3 linked regions of the Homo sapiens genome follow. The protein of the gene in region 3 interacts with the protein of the main gene of each other region in a pairwise test. Each region holds a gene or a part of one and is shown on either strand. Other genes may lie near its edges.

Region 1 (3,752 bases), on a different chromosome or scaffold from region 3:
CCACCGGCAGCGGCGTTGGCTGGAGCGCTGGTGGCTGCAGTGTGGGCGGCGGTGTGGGCGGTGGCAGCGGTGGTAACTCCTGCAGGCCTGGAGGCCCCGGGCGCATGGGCTCGCCATTGGTGGGTGCTGGGAAGATGAACGTAGGCGGCGCCAGCAGGGCAGGTGCGGGCCTCCGGGGCCCGGGAGCTGAGTGTATCTGCTCTGGTGGTGGCGGAGGGGAGCCCCAAGGCCCAGAGAGTGCGGCCGCACGCCGTCGCGGCGCCCCGATGCCTCCGCCAGCCCCGTTGAAGCGGAAGTGGCGTTCAGGGCCGTCGGGAGCGCTAACCCAGTCGAATTTGGGCTTCGAGCCTGGGAAGGTGGTGTAGGGTGGCGGCGGTAGGGCCCGGGCTTGGGACGCAGGCGCCGAGGGAGGACCAGAGCACCCTTCGCCGTCTCCATCACCTCCCTCGGCTTCCTGTGCCCCTCGAGAAACCTCTCCCAAGGGGCGAGCGGCTCCAGGAGGCAGGGGCCCTTGCTTCAGGACCTCGGCGTAAGAGATGGCACCTGAGGCAGCAAAGAGGCCGCCGCCTCCGCCGCCCCCCAGCGAAGCTTTGGCTGCTAAGGAACTCGAGGCTGCCGGAGGGGCCAAAGAGGGCCTCGACTTGAAGGTGATTTTACACAGCAGGCTCAGACCGGACTCGGAATCCGCAGGCTGGGCCATTTCGCCTTCGCCCGCATGGGGAGGCGCCCCTCCGCGAGCCCTGCCGGCCGTCTGGCCCTGGTTGCGGGGCCCAGCCTGGCTTTCTGTCGGGGGTGAGGCGGGTGTGGCCAGAGCAGGAGTGATTCTGCGGTCCGCCGGCTGCCGTTCAGAAGGTAATGGTGGTGGCGGCTTCCAAGTCTCCAGGGGCGGCGGAAATTGGGATGGGGCCCTCGGGACAGTGTCCTTCACGGATAGTTGCCGGGGCGGCGGCGGCGGCTTCAGCGGGCGGAGGCTCGGAGGGTCGCCCTGGCCGCGATGGCTCGCCTCCAGCAGGCGGCGGATCCGGGGAACTGGAGTGCCCGCGGGCTTTTGCCATTTAGACGGGCCGGGCAGCAGAGTCCCCGCGGGGGCCGGGGGTGGTGCAGAGACCGCGGCCGCCTCTTCAGGAGGGGGCATCACTGGAGAGGGCCGTTCTAAGGTGAGGGGCAGGGTCGAGGGTGAGGCCTGGGGCTCCCGGGGTACCATGAGTCCCGGGGGTGTGGCGCTGCCAGGGAACCAGACACCCAGCCCACGAGTCAGGCGCATGGCCTGGGAGGTCATCTCGGGCTCCACCAGGGACGTCCGGCGGGAGTCGGGGGCGCGGTCCGAGGGCTGCACTTTTCGGGAGCCCCCGCCCGCGGATGGCTCCGACTGCAAGTTCCCCATTTCTGACGGAGCTCGGAGACTAGTCAGAAAAATTTACTCCAGTCAGCCTGCCAGGGCCGTGGGGACCCTACGAGGCTGGCTGTACTTGATCTAATGCGTCCGCACCGGCCCCGCCCCTGTTCTCCAAGATCCGATCAGGCCCAAGTCCTTAGGTCGCACTCCTGTTCCCCGACCTTCGACACTCACGCCTTCTTGCCCATGTCCCCAACACAGCTGCTGTTAAGATACTTCACTACCAGCCCCATTATGTACTAAGGTTCCATGCCTGTCCCCTTGGCTGGTCATGCTGATCCCTCAGTCCTCTCCTCTAACTCTCCGACTCCCCGCCTCTCTCTAGAGCACCTGGGTCCCGCCCTCTTCCCAGGCAGGGGCAGATCCTCAGGCCTCACCCCTAAACCTCTTCCCGCTCCAGGTCTACTAGCTGGCATCCACAGTCAAGCTCCACCCCTGTCCCCAAGCTCCGCCCTGGCCCCGCCTCCCCCCAGAGGAACCCACTCACCGAGTCCTCCAGCCGAGCAGAGTTCAGACCGCGGCGCCCTGGGCCCGGGGCAGGGCAGGGAACTGCCGTAGCAGAAAATAACCGAAAAGAACGGGGGTGCGGGTGAAGGCAAGTGGGCGAGACAACTAGGGCGGACCCCGAGATGTAGGCCCCGCCCCCGGAGCTCGAGGCCCCGCCCTCCTGCGAGCCCGCGGGAGCCCGGCCCCTTACGAACCTAGGTCTCCCCTTGAAATACTCCGAGGTCTTGTTCCTCGCCCCCAGGCCTTCTGGTTCTAAGCTCCACCCCTTTGGGTTGTTCTCCTTAGCCCCTCCCCTTTAGAATGTCCCGCCCCTCTCATTCCCTCCCGAGGCCCCGCCCACGCGAACACCGATGCGTCGCTCCTCCCCTTTGGACCTCTCATCTGCCCCGCCCCTAAGGCAATTTACCTCTAAGCTCCGCCTTTTTAAGACCCGGCAACATCGCTTCTCAAGACCCTCTCCTTCCCCCCGGGCGCCGAGAAGGCCCATCCACCGTGGGCCCGCCCCTTCGTGACGCACGCACTAGTCCTCGCCTGCAGCATCCAAACCTCCTTATACCCAGGCCCTCCAACCCCACCCACTTGTGAAGGCTCCCCTCTCGCCCCACCCCTTATCGAACTCTGCCAGGCACCCAAGCCACAGCGTAGACCACCACCTCTTTAGAACCTTGAGACCAGTCCCTGTCCCTGCCCCGTCCCCTCCTCATAGCATTAGAGACCAATGGCGCAGATGGGTGGAAAAGTGGGGGATCCCCTCTGGATCTTAAGAAAATGGGGGCTGGGGGGTTGCTCTCTGGAGCTAGTGCCGGGCTCTAGGACCCAGCAGGCAAGTAAGCCCGCCTCGCTCTTACCCCTCCCCCAAGCCGCCCCTTCCCCCCCCACCCGTCTTCCAGGTTCCCCCTCCCTCCCCCCTCGCCCCGGCTCCCGGTGCCCGTCTCCAGCGCCGCCGGAGCCAGCCAGGGAGCCGGAACGAAAAGGAGGAGGAGGAGGCCGCGTCGCCGCCGCTCGGAGCCCGGCCGGAGCCTCGCAGGCAGGTGCCGAGGGGGGCGAGGGGGCGGGGGCTGACAGACTGCCTGCCCCGATGAGGGGGCGGCCGTGACCGCGCTGCGCCTTCTGCCCACCCAGGCGCCCCCAAGGCCCCGGCTAGGAGGACTAGAGAGTGGGGACCCCCCAAACTGCGCGGCAGCCATTCAGGGTACCAGTCTTCATTTGTGGGGTCTGGACTTTCTCCGAGGATGCCCCATTCACAAAATTCCGTCCTGGACCCTCACCGTTGAGGAACGCTGAGGACCACTCCCCCCGGGGGACACAGGATGTGTGGGGAGCGTAGGCCACCCTGAAATGCCAGTGCCCCATTCCAGCTAGGCCCTGGGGGGACCCCTGCTCTCATTCCCTGCTTCACCTGTTGTCGGGGGAGGCGGGCGGACAAAGGAAGCAGCGTCACGTGACTGCTCATTCACAAAATCCCATCCCATTGAGAAAAGGGGGCTGGGGGCGCTGCAGCCGCCCCTTCCCCTCCTGAAGGGCCCGGGAAACCCAGCAGCCTGCAGGTGGGGGAGGGGGCTAGAGCTCGTCCGGGTCCCTAAGGTTGGGACGCCAGGGTCCCTGTGCTGGATGGCAGTGAAGGGCTGGACACTGATCCCGATTACTGGGCGGAGGGCTACGTCCTCTGAGCTGGGGGGCGGGGTAAAATGGTTCTGAAGGATGCTGGGGCTGGGGGGCGGGAAGGGAAGAGGGAGGAAGGATCAATCTGCCCCCCCATCCCATCTTTCCCCCCTGGCTTCCCTCGGCTGGGGCCTGGGGGAGCAGCCTTGATTTTTGTGAATGAAATGCTCTCTGGATGTGTCTTCGG
Region 2 (2,762 bases), on a different chromosome or scaffold from region 3:
TTCACTTAGCACGTCAAGGTTCATCTTGCAGCATATTTGTAAATTTCCTTACTTTGTAAGACTCAGTAATATTCTCTTGTATGTATAAACTTCCTTTTGTTTATTCATCTGTTGATGAAAACCTGAGTAGTTTCCAGAGTTTACCTATTGTGAATGATGCTATGTACACAGGTGTACAAAACCTATTTGAGACTTTGCTTTCAATCTTTTTTGTTTTGTTTTGTTTTTTGAGACGGAGTCTTGCTCTCTCACCCAGGCTGGAGTGCAGTGGCGCGACCTCAGCTCACTGCAAGCTCTGCCTCCCGGGTTCATGCCATTCTCCTGCCTCAGCCTCCCGAGCAGTTGGGACTACAGGCGCCTGCCACCACGCCCGGCTAATTTTTTTTTAGTAGAGACGGGGTTTCATCATGTTAGCCAGGATGGTCTCAATCTCCTGACCTTGTGATCCGCCTGCTTCGGCCTCCCAAAGTGCTGGGATTACAAGCGTGATCCACCACGCCCGGCCCTGCTTTCAATCTTTTTATTTTCCCAGAAATGGAAATGCTGATCATATGTTATTTCTATATTTTAATCTGGGGATCTGCCATACTGTTTTCAGCAGGCTTATACCACTGTACATTCCCAGTGATAGTGCACAATGTTCTCCAACATTCCACATCCTTGACAGTATTTCTTGTTTTCCATCTTTGATACTACTAATCCTAATGAGATGCTATGTATGTCTTGAGTTTGATTTGTATTTCCCTAATGACTAAAGATGTCGAGCATTGTTACGTGCTTATTGGCCATCTGGGTATCTTCTTTGGAGAAATGTCTATTCAAGTCCTTTCCTCCATTTTAAAATTGGATTGTGTCTTAGCTTGGGTTGCTAAAACAAAATACCATAAATTGGAAAGCTTAATTAATCAACAAACATTTATTTCTCATGGTTTGGGAGGCTGGGAAGTCCAATATCAAGGCACTGGCATAGTCCATGTCTGGTAAGGGCCTGCTTCCCGGTTCAAAGATAGCTATCTTCTCACTGCACCCTCTCATGGTGAAGGGCAAAGCTAGCTCTCTAGGGATTCCTATCAGGAAACTAATCCCAATTACAAGGCCTCCATCTTCATGATGTCCTCCAATCCTAAAAACCACCAGAGACAGGGCCTCCAAATACCATCACATTGTGGGGGAGAGGGGGGGCACGGGGGTAAGGTTTCAACATATGAATCTGAGGTGGCATACACTCAGCCAAAACATTACACCTCTGGCCCCCAAAATCCATGTCATCACATGTAAAATATATTCATCTCATCCCAAAGGCCTCAAAAGTCTCAGTTAATTCCAGCATGAAGCCTAATGTTTAAACTCAAACTCCAAAGTGTCATCTCAATATCACATCACTCAGATATGGATGAGACTCAATTCATGCTGAGGCAAAATTCTTCTTCAGCTCCGAACCGGTGAAAACCAAACTAGTCATGTATTTCCAAAATATGAGACAGGCACAGGATAGAGATTCCTATTCCAAAAGTGAGAAACAGGAGAAAGGGGTGAGCTCCCAAACAAGTCTGAAACCCAGAAAGCAAACTGAAGACTTTCCATATTCTTTAGATATGTAGATACTTGTAGACCTGTCCTCCACTATTCATTTTCACAGGTATTCGAAGGTTGTGTGATAAATGAAAGCTTTCCCACATTCTTTACGTAAGGTTTATCTCCATTATGAGCTCTTTCATGTCTTTGAAAGGAACTGGAATAACTGAACGTTTTTCCACATTGCTTACATTCATAGGGTTTTTCTCCGGTATGAGTTCTTTCATGTATTCTAATGGAACTGGCATAATTGAATGCTTTCCCACATTCTTTACATTCATAGGGTTTTTCTCCAGTATGAGTTCTTTCATGTGTTCGGACAGAACTAGGACAGTCAAAGGCTTTACCACATACCTGACATTTATAAGGTCCATCTCCAGTGTGCAGTATCATATGTTTTCTAATCCTTTTAAGAGAAATGAAGGCTTTCCCACATACCTGACATTCATAGGGTTTCTCTCCAGTGTGAGTTCTTTCGTGTATTTGAAATGAACTGGGACAGTCAAAGGCTCTACCACATACCTGACATTTATAAGGTCCATCTCCAGTGTGCTTTATCATGTGTCTTCGGACACTTGGGAGAGAAATGAAGGCTTTCCCGCATTCCTTACATTCATAGGGCTTCTCTCCAGTGTGAGTCCTTTCATGTGTTCGAACATTACTGGAAGAACTGAAGGTTTTACCACATTTATTACATTCATAGGGTTTCTCCCCAGTATGAGTTCTTTCATGCTTTCGAACATAACTGGGAAAAATAAAGGCTCTCCCACATACTTTACATTTATAAGGTCCATCCCCAGTGTGCCTAATCATATGACTTTGAAAATTTGTGAAAGAAATGAAGGCCTTCCCACACTGTTTACATTCATGGGGTTTCTCTCCAGTATGAGTTCTTTCATGTATTCGAAATAAACTGGGGCGGTCAAAGGCTTTTCCACATTCCTGACATTTATAAGGTCCATCTCCAGTGTGCCTAATCATGTGTCTTTGAAAACTTGGAAGAGAAATGAAAGCTTTTGCACATTCCTGACATTCATAGGGTTTCTCTCCAGTGTGAGTTCTTTCATGTATCTGAAATAAACTTGGGCGATCAAAGGCTTTCCCACATTCCTGACATTTATATGGTCCATCTCCAGTGTGCTTAATCATGTGTCTTCGAACACTTGGGAGAGAAATGAAGGCTTTCC
Region 3 (3,652 bases):
TCTAGTTCATTCCTTTTAAGTACCTTGCATCAAAGGAGATGTAATATTTGGATTATCCTTCCCTGACTGATGGGCATTTAAGTTACTTTCGGGTTTTACTTGACAAATATAATGCCGTAGTGAGCATCCTTGATAAACTCTTTGCTAACCTGTCTGAGAGTTCTCCAGGAGTTTTCCCAGAGGAAATATTTGAGAAGTAGTACATGGACATTTTCAATTTGATAAGATACTGCCAAATTGGTCACCATAGTGTACATTTCTACCTGCACCATGTCAGTGTTCGTGTTTCCCACGTCCTTGTCAGCACTTTGCTATTTATTATATTCCTCTAAAGAGAAAAAATATATGTGTATATGGAGAGAGAGGTGCCGGGGGAAGAGGGGGAGAGACAGGGTCTTGCTGTGTTACCCAGGCTGGAGTGCAGTGGTGCAATCACGGCTCACTGCAGCCGCGACCTCTGGGGCTCAAGTGATCCTCCCATCCCAGCCTCCCAAGTAACTGGGGTCCCAGCTACTCTGCACGCCACCATGCGCAGCTAATTTTTTTTTTTTTTTTGGTATTTTTTGTAGAGACAGGGTCTCACCTTGTTGCCCAGGCTTGTCTCAAACTCCTAAGCTCAAGTGATCCACCTGCCTCAGCCTCCCAGAATGTTGGGATTACAGCGTGAGCCACTGGACCTGGCCTTAAAGAGTATTTTTATCATCCACCTATCATCTGTCTGTCTTTGTCCTTCTCTCCCTTCCTTCAGATTTAGATTGCCAGTGAGGTTGAGGCTCTTCACATGTTTGTACCATTCCAGTTTTTCCTTTGAGTCACCTGTCTGTGTCTTGTGCCCACTTTCCTGTTGGGCTGCATTTTTCTTAGTGATCTGCTGTAGGTCTTTGTGTGTTCTGGATACTAATCCATTGCCTCTTTTGCTTCTGTGGTCTGTACAAGGTCCATATTTATGGGCCAGCTAAAGTCCCCCTTCAACTTCCAAGGCAAAGCTGTGTGTGAGGGCTGGGTCACTTCTAGCCTCTCCGGTTCCAGTCCCTGGAGCTCTGTGCCTTTGGGTCCTGGTGAGCTCTTGTTGATTGCAGTGGGAGATGGGGAGAATTGCCTTCAGAGCCATTCACTGACTTTCTTGGCAGTCTTCCATTTGGCCACTGAGCAAAGCCGCGTGTTTACCCTCTATCCTGACTCGGGATCTCAGCATGCACCAGCCTGAGAGGGGCCTTCCCCCTGGGATCTTTGGCTGCCTTCCAACATGCTCATGGCTTGTTCCGTCTCACCACATCTCCAAGGCACTCTTCTCCCCTCTTTTCACCTCCCCCACTTCACTAACGCCCACCCTTGAGTCCTCTGGAGCCCCAAGACCTTTCTCATACTATAAATCAGCCTCTTTTCTTCCTGGCCTCCCCCTGCCTTGTGTATAGCTTGCCTCTCTCTGGGGAACTACACTTTCACTGCCACTTTCATGATCGAAGGTCACTCATTTTCAGCAGTTAGTACCTTAGACCCAGAGATAGGGGTTATTTTTTTCCTAGTTGCCCATTTTTTAAAAAAATTTAAATTTAAATTTTAGATTCAGGGGGTACATGTGCAGGTTTGTTACAAGAGTATATTGCGTGATGCCAAGGTTTGGGCTTCTGTTGAATCTGTCACTCAGATAGTAGATATAGTACCCAATAGGAGATTTTTCAGTCCTTGTTCCTCTCCCTCCCTCTCTCCTTTTGGAGTCTCCAGTGTCTCTTGTTCCCATCTTTATGTCCGCGTATACCAAGGGTTTAGCTCCCACTTATAAATGAGAACATGCAATATTTGGTTTTCTACTTCTGGATTAATTCACTTAAGATAAGTGGAGGCAGCCTCCAGCTGCATCCATGTTGCTGCAAAGGACATGGTGGTGGTCTTTCTTTCTGGCTGCGAAGTATTCCATGGCTTGTATGTACCACATTTTCTTTATCCAATCCACTGTTGATGGACACCTGGGTTGATTCTATGTCTTTGCTATTTTTGTTTTGTTTAGTTTTGTTTTTGAGACAGGGTCTGGCTGTTCCATTCACACTGGCATGCAGTGGTGCTATCTTATCTCACTGCAGTCTGAAAATCCTGGGCTCAAGCAATCCTTCTGCCTCGGCCTCCCAAGTACTTGGGATTACAGGCATGTGACATCATGCCTGGCTAATTAAAAAAAATTTTTTTTTTTTTGGTAGCGATAGGGGTCTCACTTTCTTGCCCAGGATAGTCTTGAACTCCTGAACTCAAGTGATCCTTTCACCTCAGCCTCCCAAAGTGCTGGGATTTCAGGCATGAGCCACCACTTATCTTTGCTATTGTGAGCAGTGCTGTGATAAACTTATAAGGGCAGGTGTCTTTTTGGTAGAACAATTTTATTTTCCTTTGGCTATTTACCAAGTAATGGGATTGCTGGGTTGAATGCTAGGTCTGTTTTTAGTTCTTTGAGAAATCTCCAGACTGCTTTCCATAGGTGCTGAATTAATTTACATTCCCACCAACAGTGTATACGAGTTCCCTTTTTTCAGTGGTTTTGCCAACATGATGTTTTTTGACTTTCTAGTAATAGCCATTTTGACTGGTGTGAGATAGTACCTCATTGTGGTTTTGATTTGCGTTTCCCTGATGACTAGTGATGTTGGGCATTTTTTCATGTTTCGTTGGCTGCTTATATGTTTTCTTTTAAGAAGTGTCTGTTCTTGCCCTTTGCCTGCTTTTTAATGAGGTTGTGTGTTTTTTCTTGTTGATTTGTTTAACTTAACTTCCCTATAGATTCTGGATATTAGACTTTTGTTGGATCCATAGTTTGCGAATATTTTCTCCCATTCTGTAGGTTGTCTGTTTACTCTGTTGATAGTTTTTTTTGCTGTGGAGAAGCTCTTTATTTTAATTATGTCCCAATTGTCAATTTTCGGTTTTGTTGCAATTGCTTTTGAGGACTCAGTCAAATTCTTTGCCTAGGCCGATATCCAGAAGACTATTTCCTAGATTTTGTTCTAGGACTTTTATAGTTTGAGGTCTTACATTTAAGTCCTTAATCCATCTTGAGTTAATTTTTATCTGTGGTTAGAGGTAGTGGTCCAGTTTCATTCGTTTACATATGGTTAGCTATTTTTCCCAGCACCATTTATTGAACAGGGAGTCCTTTCCTCATTGCTTATTTTTGTCAATGTTGTCAAAGGTCAATTGGCTGTATGTGTGCAGCTTTAATTTCTGGGTTCTGTATTCTGTTCCATTGGTCTATGTGTTTATTTTTGTACCAGTGTTATGCTGTTTTAGTTAGTGTAGCCTGGTAGTATAGTTTGAAGGTGGGCAGTGTGATGGCTCTAGCTTTGTTCTTTTTTCTTAGCGTTGCTTTGGCTATTTGGGCTCTTTTTTGGTTCTATAAGAATTTTAGAAGAGTTTGTTCTAATTCTATGAAAAATGATGTTGGTAATTTAATAGCAATAGCATTGAATCTGTAGATTGCTTTGGGCAGTTTGGACATTTTCATGATATTGATTCTTCCAGTCCATGAACATGAATGTTTTTCCAGTTGTGTCATCTATGATACTTCTTTCAGCAGTGTTCTGTAGTTCTTCTTGAAGAGATCTTTCACTCCCTTGGTTAGATGTATTCCTAGGTTTTTGTGTGTGTGTGTGGCTGTTGTAAATAG

Evidence for each region.
Region 1: the proteins of HSF2BP (region 3) and GGN interact in binary tests that used the Homo sapiens proteins (3 or more experiments, as listed by UniProt).
Region 2: the proteins of HSF2BP (region 3) and ZNF564 interact in binary tests that used the Homo sapiens proteins (3 or more experiments, as listed by UniProt).

The regions. Positions count from the first base shown.
Region 1 is NC_000019.10:38,385,878-38,389,629, forward strand, and holds the start of GGN (gametogenetin), read right to left. Parts: upstream 2,158-3,752; 5' UTR 2,098-2,157; intron 1,973-2,097; exon of another isoform or gene 1,946-1,972; 5' UTR 1,884-1,945; intron 1,404-1,883; 5' UTR 1,385-1,403; coding exon 1-1,384. UniProt on the Homo sapiens protein: May be involved in spermatogenesis.
Region 2 is NC_000019.10:12,524,823-12,527,584, forward strand, and holds the end of ZNF564 (zinc finger protein 564), read right to left. Parts: coding exon 1,624-2,762; 3' UTR 551-1,623; downstream 1-550.
Region 3 is NC_000021.9:43,607,339-43,610,990, reverse strand, and holds part of HSF2BP (heat shock factor 2-binding protein), read left to right. Parts: intron 1-1,001; exon of another isoform or gene 1,002-1,104; intron 1,105-3,652. UniProt on the Homo sapiens protein: Meiotic recombination factor component of recombination bridges involved in meiotic double-strand break repair.